2 separate regions of the Homo sapiens genome follow, and region 1 is linked to region 2. Evidence: fine-mapped expression QTL. A gene starts in region 2. The other region holds a variant in brackets. All regions are shown on one strand. Distances are from middle to middle.

Region 1 (5,383 bases), 92 kb after region 2:
ACAGTTAAGCAACACAGAGAGAGAATTCAACCCAAGTTTTTGTATATAAACAATTGCAATTAATATCAGTATGCATTATTAAGTTGCAAGTTGTTTAGGAAAATCTTGTAGTTATGTTTTTTAAGAGTAATATGTTTAAATTAATATTATATATTATTACTCTGCTATTTTTGAAATGAAGCAGTGAACTCTGATTAGCTCTCAGAAGTCAGTCATTATATTTAGGAAAAGTCAGTAAGTTTGCCTGTTACTCATTTACAAATTAATTCTTGTTGAATATTCAAAAAATATCTAAATATAATTTAATTTAGTTAATTTTTATCATGGGTATTAATACTCCACTGTTATGATGATAGACTTTCCTGTTGCTTTGGTAATATTGATAAATTCATTTTTAAGTATAAGTACCATTGTCTGAAATATTTTAGACTTTTTTTGTGGTTCATATTATTAGTGCATAAATGTCATCTAACATTATTTTAGAGTGGGTAACATCCTTTCTTCTAATGACATATTAATCACTCATACAGGTTAACACACACATATTCACACCTACAGAATTATTATTTTTAAAAGTTATGTAATCAAAAATATTTTTCTTTAATTTCCTCTATATTATGATATATAGCATGGGAATAGAAAAAAGTACTAAAATTTTTCATTTTCTTATAACTGTTAAGTTTTCTGCCTTTTTCTTTTCTGGCTACTATTCTTATTATTGAATTCCCTGTACAACATCTATGGGAACAAGATAAATACTCCAGAAAACTTGCACTTTGCTGAAATGTGTAAGTAATAAAATAAATTATACTGTAATGTATATTGCATTCAGTTTACTGTCACACTTCAATTTTGCTATTGTTTCAAGTGTAGTTGTTGTTGATGAAGTAGGGCTTCTTACCAGCAGTGTAACTTGGGCAAGTTACTTACCTCTAGATTCTGTGAGATGAGAATCATAAGGCTGCTTAATTCATTGTTGGGATTTACAAACGTAATGCACATAATGTGTTACCACAGCACCTGACACTCAGTAAGTTCTTAATAAAGATTAACTAGTAAATGTTGGCCAATTTATTTCCTAACTGTGCAATCTACATAACTCTTTATAATGTTTTCCAACAATATGAATCAATTTTGGTTTATAATTATTATTTTTTAAATATAAAGAATCCCTTTAATTGGTATAATTCTTGAGTGTGATAAACATGTATGTATATATGTATATATGTATGCACATATATATGACTACATCTGCCAAAAAACTAAAATTTGTTAATAAGTATTCAAAATGTTTTATTTCTTATGAATATTTGTCTAGTATATCTGGCTAGTTGAAACTTTTCACAGCATTTCCATCTGGATGATGACTTAATTTTTTTTTTTTTTTTTTTTTTTTTTGAGACAGAGTCTCGCTCTGTCACCCAGGCTGGAGTGCAGTGGAATGATCTCAGCTCACTGAAAGCTCCACCTCCCGGGTTCATGCCATTCTCCTGCGTCAGCCTCCCGAGTAGCTGGGACTACAGGTGCCCGCCACAATGCCTGGCTAATTTTTTCTATTTTTTTAGTAGAGACGGGGTTTCACCATGTTAGCCAGGATGGTCTCGATCTCCTGACCTCGTGATCCACCCGTCTCGGCCTCCTGAAGTGCTGGGATTACAGGCGTGAGCCACCGCACCCGGCCGATGATGACTTAATTTATGGTCATTATGGTATATGCAATAATGAAGGGGAATCTGCAATTTTACAGTATGTAAGTTTGACTTACTTTTTTGGATGCTGCCATACTTCATGTATTTTATATAAACATTTGCAAATGGGATATATAATATTGTTCTGTTTCCAACAAACCTAAAATATGTATTTGTATGTCTATATAAATGTATTAAGACTTTTGTTGCAAGAAATTACATATAAACAGAAAAGTGAATAAAACAAACATACATCGTATTGAATTGTTTTCAAGAGAAAACTCATATAACATCATTTGGTCAAAAAAAAAAAAACAGTCTTAATCCAGATACATTCTGTGTAGTACTCTTTTCTAGCCACAATCCCCCCTCCCCCAGCCTCCCACAGCTGGCAAAGCAAAATACTGTATTTATTTTTATATTAATCACTTTCTTGCTTGTTTTACCACATTACAACCTGAAAATGTATCCCTAAATACTGTAGATTTGCCAGCTTTAATTTACCTTAATGTAGACATTTAACTGGGACACATGCGGATGGAACTTGACACGATTCATTTTTCCCTATGTTTGCCTCTACATGGGTAAGTCTACGCTTGAAAACAAGAGTTAGCAGAGCTACTCGCAGGTTAAGCTGTAGCACAGTGGTTAAGAGCACAGACTCCAAAGGCAGCAGCTTGGATTCAAACTGAGGCTGTGCCCCCAGTGTCTTTCAGGAAGTTATTCAACCTCTCTGCCATCTTACGTTACCCAACTTTAAAATTGGGTAATAATAGTGTTTATTCATAAGCTTTTTAGGAAAATTAAATTAATTAACTTTGTAAATTGCTCGTGTTTGTTAAAGAAATATATCAACGGCTTTGATTGTGTTGTTAGTGTGAGAAAACATTTTAAATGGTCCATTTTCAAGGCATGATAAATCTAAGTACTGGCAGCCAGGCTGCAAATGTAACAAACCACAGGGCTCTTGCACCTAGAAGGTCACAATAAGCAAACAGAATGTAGCGGAGGGGTCAGCCCATAAAAGGGAAGAAAGTTTCATTTTTGGGAAGTCGAAACTTAAGCAAGGAAGGGGATGGAGGTATAACCTTATAAGGGAGATAATGAAACTTTAGGCAACGTCTGGGAAGATTGTAACCCCATAGTACTCGA[C/A]CAATGAGGAACTAGGGGAGGGACTTGCGTGCTAGGAGATAAATTACCTGTTGTGACTGCCCCAGATGTGCCTGCCTACCAGACACTCGATCTTGCAAGGCTGTTATTAAAAGTCTCACTTTCGCTGTTCTTTTTGCTTCTAAGTCCATCTTTGGGTTTGGGTGGGTGAGTGTGTTTCTCACATTAGCAATAACTCTGGGCTTATTCAATATACCCATGAGTTTCTGGTATCTGATAAATTCCTTAGTCTGTGAAATAAAGAAAAGTATATAGCATGAGAACCAAATATTTTAATGGTAGGATATATTCAAATCTTAAAAAAATAGGATATAATTATAGCATTACCACTTTTTATTTTCAAACATTAACAATAAACACTCATAATATCTCTTCTGCCATTGAGAGTTTGTATCATTGCTGTTGGTTGGATAATATGCTGCACAAATCTGTGCAATTCTCTGTCCTGTTTCTTCTGTGCACAGCTGAGAGAACTAAACAAAAGTGCATTTATAAAAAGTGAATGCTTTCCTGGCTCCGGGACACTATGTCTTATTCAGCATGAGATGGGTTCTGAAATTCTGAGTGCCTTTTAATATCTTATTCAGAAAACAACCTCTAAATTTTGAATGTCATAATTTTGTGATTTAAAAAAAATCATCAGTGTTATTGATATTTCCAATTATTGTTAGTAAGCAGGTATGAAAGAGAGTATGGTGTAAAAATATATCAAACCTGATGTGTTATTTGGCTGGAGCTGCAGTGACAAAGTACCACAGACAGGGTGGCTAAAAAAACAAAACAAACAAAAAAACAGAAATTTACTTTCACTGAATTTGTAATTGTAATTTTATTTAACTTTAAGTTAAATAAAATTTAACTTTAAGTTTATATAGCCACTTGTGGCTAGTGCTACTGTATTGGGCAGTAGAGATGTAGCACTGAGTTTTTTTTCTTTTTTAATGTATCTGGGTATATCAATGGCAAATGTGCTTTTATATGTTGGAGTTGGAGCTACAAAAATATAATTTGATGCTCTGTATATTGTCTGCTATACTTTTGTTAAAGTTATTACTTTCTATATATCCAGGGCCTGTAGGTATATATATATATATGTGTGTGTATATATATGTGTGTGTATATATATGTGTGTGTATATATCTGTATATGATATATAGATATATAGATATATAGATATATCTATATAGATAGATCTATATAGATATATAGATAGATCTACATAGATAGATATATAGATATATCTATATAGATAGATATATATATAGATATATAGATATAGATAGATATATACACACACATACATGATAATGAATGTTCTCACTTCCTGGTGGTTAGTCACCTATCTCTTATAATCTTTGTATCAATTTTTGTCTAAAATTCTATTCGGTTTGTTATTTACATTGCTTTTCTTTAAGTTAAATGTTTTGGCACACACACCGTCATATTATTTCCCACCTTTCAGGGTTGTTTTGTTTTTAGTGTACCTTTTTAAAAGGATATATACCTATATTTTCAAAAAATTCAATCTGATAACCTCTGTCTTAAAAAGTGCGATTGTTCCCTGATTCAAGTGTTCTTTATATTCAGGCAAACCGGTTGTGCATTCATGTGTGTGTAAATATAGCTAAAATAAAATTAAATGTCCTAATATCATTTGGCTGACATTCTCGTGCCGATCATGAAAATCAATTTAGTAAGGAGAAATGGTAAGCCTTAATTGATTTACCTGACTCTAAACCTATCAGCTCTTTTCTCACTTTAGTTTGGTTCAATTTGACAAGCAGCTACGAGTAACTTGCTTGATTCTGTCAACTAAACTCACTGTTGGGCAGGCACTACCTTGCATTTTTTTCTAGTACTACATATTGAAATTTTAAAGCAGGTTATCAAGGAGATTATAATGTGACCAACTTCTCTGGCTTAGTAGAGAATATTTTTAGTTTAAATGTTGCAGTGAGACTAAAGCTGAAATCACAAATGTTCAGTGGCATTCTGTTCAAGGGTTGAAACTGAGCCACTTGAAATGAAGTAGGGAAGGCAAAGCTCTACCTCTGCACTCTTAGGATCTTTGGCTAGGTTTGAGACTAGATTGACATAAGGCAGATTAATAGGAGAAAATCGTAGAGTTTATTTTACATGCACCTAGAAATCTCCACAAGAAAATGAAGACCGAAAGAAGTGGCAAAACCCAGATGTTTATACATTAGGTTGAACAAAGTCTGGTGATAGTGGATAAGTAACTAATATGTATGGGATAGCTAAGGAAGATAAAAATTATTTTTATAAGATCTGTTGGTACAGATACTTTTCAGCCTTGACTCACCATCTCTGGTAAGAAAAATATTTCTTTCTTCCTGGTACAGGGAGGAGAAAGAAGGTCAGACTCTTTTTTTCCTGCTATTTTTGAAATGCCTTATGCCAAAGTGGCTAATTTTGAGGTGGCATATTCTGCCAACGTTCGGTAGCACAGACACTCAGTATCTCAAGTATTAGAGATGACGTATGTCTAGATGGAATTTCCCAGG
Region 2 (5,383 bases):
TGAACTTTTTACAGTCTTTTTTTTGTTTTGTTTTGCTGCTACTTTATTCTGCTTTGTTTCAAAGCATCATTTTCAAGTTATTTCCTTTGCAGCACTAAGTATTTAGTATACTAACAGGTGTTCTAAGAAAAAGTTTGTCATAGTACAAAAAAGAAAGTCTGCAAAATGCTGAATTAAATATTTTTGAAAAAAATTCTTAACCACAGGACCTTTCAAAGTATTTAATATACTAACATTCACCATGAATCTCTAAGAGGCTGCTTTGATATGCAATGTCTCCCCAAATTATTTTACCATGGATTTTTTCCTCCCAGAAACCTATTAACATCTTGGGGAAAAGGAGGCCTGCAGAAAATAACTTGAAAAGCACTGTCTTTGAGTGATGTACAGATTCATTTTTGGCACTGTAGGCTCCTATTAAGAGAAGCTATAAAACTGTAGGCTGGATCACAGTGATTAGTAAAGGTCCCTTAGCACTTTGTGTGAAGTACAAGCTTCACAATAGAGTTTCATCCTTTTACTTTTTAAATTTTATTTTATTTTAAATAATTCAATTTCTGCAGTCTTCTAACATATCTTATATTCCACTTCTGAAGAGGCTATGTGTGAGTGCAGTAACAGTGAAATGAGTCCTATCAAGGTAAATTAGGTAAAGTGCCTAGAATCTTCAAAATGAAAGGCTTATTGGTAGATGATCATTATCAATTAGTGGTTCAAAAAGAGGGGATGATTATGAATATGGAGCTGTGGATTTAAGACTATCAATTTTTTATTGGAAATGAGACGAGAAAGTAGAGATATTAAACTGGCAACATCTTTCATAAGTTGTCTATCAGGTAATACAGAATGTCATTTACTGTCTCCGCACCAAGTATTTGGGCATAGAATGTGCATTGTAATGTACTTTTATGCCCACTAGTTTTTAAAAACCCTTCTTTAAATTAAAAGAAAGATACATGTTTAGAAACACACACTGTTGGCAAAAATAATTTAACTTCTTAATATGCTCATTAAGGTCAAATACTATCAAAAAAGTGGAAATAAACAGGGAATAACATACAAAACTACACAAAATTCTTAACCCACTCTTTTTTTTCCCTTAAATATCACATCCCAGAGAGACTGGTTTCCAACTTTACATTTTTAGGATTTAGTACTATCCTTTAGAAATAAAACCTAAAACTAATATTAGACATCTCATTTCAAAAGTTAAAGTGTATTTTAGGATGAACATGCCACAGGGTGACTGAAAACATAGTTTCACAAGGAAGTAATGATGATGCACCAGAAAATTAGAATTTGATTGCTTGAAACATCTTTGCTACAACTCTGGACAATACTGTCTTATTCTAACATCTGTGACTTTAGGCATATAAATAGACAGTAAATAAATGAATCTCTCTCATTCTCTTAGCAAGGTGATTTTTTAAAAAATGTGTTTTAACCCTCCCACCAATCGTGAGATATGAACAAACCCTTTCTGAAAGGTGTTCTTTTTTTTCTTTCTTTCTTTCTTTTTTCCGTTGTTTGCTTGTCAGTTATACAATACCTTAAACCCTCCCTAGCAGTATTCAGCATTACGGTTCCATTCACCTCGCATTCTTCATTTCACTTAAAATTTGAAAAGGAAGGTAGAAATTTAAGTTTAAAGGACTCATCTCACCTTTAAAGGACTCATCCTTTAAAGGAGGCAGATGGAGATGTAGTTCCATGGCTAATTGCACTCTGTTATTCTTTTCTTAGTAGATTCACCTTTCAACTCTTTGCCTTCGAGAATGTTTCTCTTTCAATTTCTCTAGCTCTGTGTTTGTCTCTCTCCCTACCTCCCTCTCTAGAAGACAAAAAAAAAAAAAAAAGAAAAGAAAAAAGGAAAAGAAAAAAAAAAGAAAAAAAAGAAAAAAGAAGCCCTGTTTCATTTTGGTACCTGTAACTGCTGGAATTGGATCCATGTACAATAAGCAATCATTCTAACCGAAAAACAGAGAAGAAAGCACAATTGTAAGCCATGAGCTGTATTTTTGGTTCAATCACTTCCACTGCAAAAACCAGTCCATTTATTTTGGCGGATAGAAAGAAAATTTGATCCACCTTAGTGATGCTTCAAGGGTCTGTCTTTGCCTTTATGTTCTTGCACAGTTCCCAAACTTGCCCCACTTCTTCTCTGAAACAGATGTCCTGCTTAACGAGATGCATGTCTCCTACTCACTTCCACCCTTTTGCCCCCGTGAACAGATGAGCCCACAACCCTCTCTCCCCAGCCCTGGAGCTAACTAAATTGTAGACAGAGCAGCAGAGCAGCCCTGTCTTAGCTGATTAGGGTCTGGTTGCTGACTACGTTGCAGTTCCTGAGAAATACGGGGCAATTCACTTTGCAGGGTTCTGTCTCTCATGCAGTTTTGTGCCCCAAGAGTCACTTTTCAAAATCTCTTAACTTCTGTTCCTGGTTATACTGAGAAAGGAAGTTCAGGGGAATCCTTAACGTGGTTAATTATAAAGTCAGTGCTGGAATCCAAGGGACTCTCAGGCAGCAAGGGTGCAGCTCTTAACCCCACAGTCTCCAGCATGTGCGGAGAAGGTACAGGCAATGCAGGAACTTCAGAGGTGGTGGCAGGTGCTAGGTGCTAGGGTGTGGCTGCAGTTGTCTCCCTTTTCTCTTATAGCAGAAGGAGCTGAAAGAGGAGGGGAGGAGGGAGGAAGGAGAGAGAGAGCAAAAGAGAGACAGAGAGAGAGAGCAAAAGAGAGAGAGAGGAGGGGGAGACCCGGGGAGTGAATAACAGGGCGGGCGGAGGGCGGGCGGGCGCCGGGGGAGTGGGGAGCGCGCCTGCCAGGCTCAGACTCACACGCACGCCGCCTCTGTTTGTACACAGTGCGCTCCCGGCGGCCCGCTCGCTCCCCTCCAGCTCACGCTTCATTGTTCTCCAAGTCAGAAGCCCCGCAGCCGCCGCGCGGAGAACAGCGACAGCCGAGCGCCCGGTCCGCCTGTCTGCCGGTGGGTCTGCCTGCCCGCGCAGCAGACCCGGGGCGGCCGCGGGAGCCCGCGCCCCGCCCGCCGCGCCTCTGCCGGGACCCACCCGCAGCGGAGGGCTGAGCCCGCCGGCGGCTCCCCGGAGCTCACCCACCTCCGCGCGCCGGAGCGCAGGCAAAAGGGGAGGAAAGGCTCCTCTCTTTAGTCACCACTCTCGCCCTCTCCAAGAATTTGTTTAACAAAGCGCTGAGGAAAGAGAACGTCTTCTTGAATTCTTTAGTAGGGGCGGAGTCTGCTGCTGCCCTGCGCTGCCACCTCGGCTACACTGCCCTCCGCGACGACCCCTGACCAGCCGGGGTCACGTCCGGGAGACGGGATCATGAAGCGCTCGGTAGCCGTCTGGCTCTTGGTCGGGCTCAGCCTCGGTGTCCCCCAGTTCGGCAAAGGTAAGGCGTCGGGACCCGGACAGCTGGGTGAGGGATGGGCTGGGAGTCCCCTGAGAAACGCCGCGCAGGGGGCCGGAGGCGGTCCCTCCGGCGTGCCAAGGGTGGCGAGCGCCGCTGGCGGCGCGGAGGAGGCGTCGAGTCCTGGGTGCCCCGAGAAAGTGCTTGTAAAGTCTGAGCAGAGTGCGCGGGGCCGAGCGGGGAGAAGGGTGCGGGGTACCGGGGTGAGATACAGGAAAGAGGAGGACGGTGGGGAGCGGTAGAAGACAGCGTCCCCAGGACCAGCGACTCTGTGGCTCACTCGGCCACTGGGTCTCGGCGCAAACCCTCCCTAGGCAGTGCGGGCGATGCTGACTGCAGACGTCGGGCAGGGCTTTCGTGCGGGCGGGAGCGGGGGAAGCCAGTGCGCCCGGGCGTCAGCTAGTTGATGCGGGAAGAGGCTGGGGAGCTGCAGGGCCGTCCGCCCCCGGGTGCGGTGCTCTGGCGCAGGGCCTGGGCTGAGCCGTTCGCAAACCCAGACCCGGCGCTGGGCGTTTTGGCCGCGGGTGAGGTGGAGAGGAGTCTCACAGGTCACTTCAGCTTTCTCCTGCCTCCCCATCCCAGAGGAGCAGCATCGATTACAGCAAACCCCAGGAACCCGCCTCTCCTAGTCTGACCCCAGGGGCCTGGAGCTTAGCTGCGCACCCCCTCCGAGTACCAGTGTTAACTCTTGGTAATGGGGAATAGTGCGGGGCAAGCCACCCCTCGCGTCCCCGCACAGGAGCGGAAAAGTTGTGAGAGCTTGTAGGGTGATGCCTTCTGTGAATTGCACGAAAAAATAAAAACAGAAAAATAAAAATCAAATTAAATTAAAAAGAAAAAAGCATTTAAAAGAAAACGCAGGACTTCGACGAGTGTCCTGCTGGAGTAGTTTAGGCGACTTCCAGGTCCCCTGCGAGGTGCAGCTTGTCCATACAAACCCTTGTGCTGACCTGGGTCTCACCGCTGGCCGGGGCTGAAGTAGTCGCCGGAAAAGGGCAGCGGGGGCAGCAGGGTGTGTGGGGAGGCGAGTGGGAGCTGTGCCTGGGGGAGCTGTGCCACTCCTGCGCTCACAGATGCGGGCGGCCCCTTGTGAGGGATCCGCGGGTAATAGAATCCTCTGCAGGCAGCTTCAAGTGGAAAGCTGAGTGAACTACAGGGTTTTAAATGCTGTGCCTCTAAAAAAGGTAGATGGATTTAAAAATGCGTTGACTCCAGTCCACTTGAGATTAGACAGAGTATGAATATTCTGCACCATCCATCCATGCACCTATCCATCTATTTGAGTCACAAGAAAATTGTGGACTCTTGGGCGACTGTTCGCCCAAGAAGCCGGGTGTTGCTGGCCAGATGCCCTCGCAGCTCTGGCAGTAGAGATCCATGGCCGCGCCTTGCCTGGGCCTCCCTCCGTCCCCCAGAATGTGGTTATTTTCCCCCAGCGTGTAGGCGTGTGTGTAGGTGTGTGCCTCGCCTGCGTTTACAAAGTGCCCTTCCAGTTAATAGGCAAAGGCAGCCACTCCACTAAAGGTTAAGAAATGGTAATGGTTCCAGTAGTTGCTCGGCCGAGTCTCCAGCGATATAAAAAAGAGAGTGCTTCCACGGCTGCTGTTTTTCCTTTCTCTCATTTCCCGTCTGGATTTCCTCTGCACTTTGATCTCTTAGCAGGAAGGGAAGGGGGAAGGACTGCAGGCACTCCCCTCTCCTCCTTCTCTTCCCCGCCTACGTTTCCACCCCAAACACGAAAACACACTCACCCACTCACTCGCATTGTGTCACCGCCACCACCGTACGTCCCCGCTCCGAGGTGGAGGGCGGCGCGGGGTAGAGGAGAAGATAGTGCGTCTAGCCTATGTGGCCGCGCTTGCCTATGTGGCCGCGCTTGCCTGGCTGGGTCTGATTGAGGGAGCCCCGGGGCGCGGCAAGTCCCGGCTCGCTGCAGCCAGGAGCTCTGTCTCCT

Which allele goes with the higher level. Alleles are on the strand shown, and positions count from the first base shown. SD is a standard deviation of normalised expression in the study named.
For the expression in gastroesophageal junction of the gene that starts at base 2,839 in region 2, C is the low allele of the variant in region 1 and A is the other (moderate effect, 0.49 SD a copy in GTEx).

What was found. PIP is the estimated chance that this variant, and not a neighbour inherited with it, causes the effect. A credible set is the group of variants that fine-mapping cannot tell apart.
Region 1: its variant is the best candidate, but not a certain one, in a credible set for the expression of EDIL3 in gastroesophageal junction (GTEx, PIP 0.89).

Annotation. Positions count from the first base shown.
Region 1 is chr5:84,290,400-84,295,782 of GRCh38, reverse strand. The region is part of intron 1 of EDIL3 (EGF like repeats and discoidin domains 3); the gene reads left to right. Among named protein-coding and RNA genes, the nearest start is that of EDIL3-DT, 89 kb to the left of the region's middle. The variant C/A (reference allele first, on the strand shown) is at 2,841.
Region 2 is chr5:84,382,336-84,387,718 of GRCh38, reverse strand. EDIL3 (EGF like repeats and discoidin domains 3) reads left to right here and starts at 2,839. Exons shown (of 11, transcript NM_005711.5): 1 at 2,839-3,411. The coding sequence starts at 3,345. EDIL3-DT (EDIL3 divergent transcript) reads right to left here and starts at 5,297. Exons shown (of 4, transcript NR_183295.1): 1 at 5,181-5,297.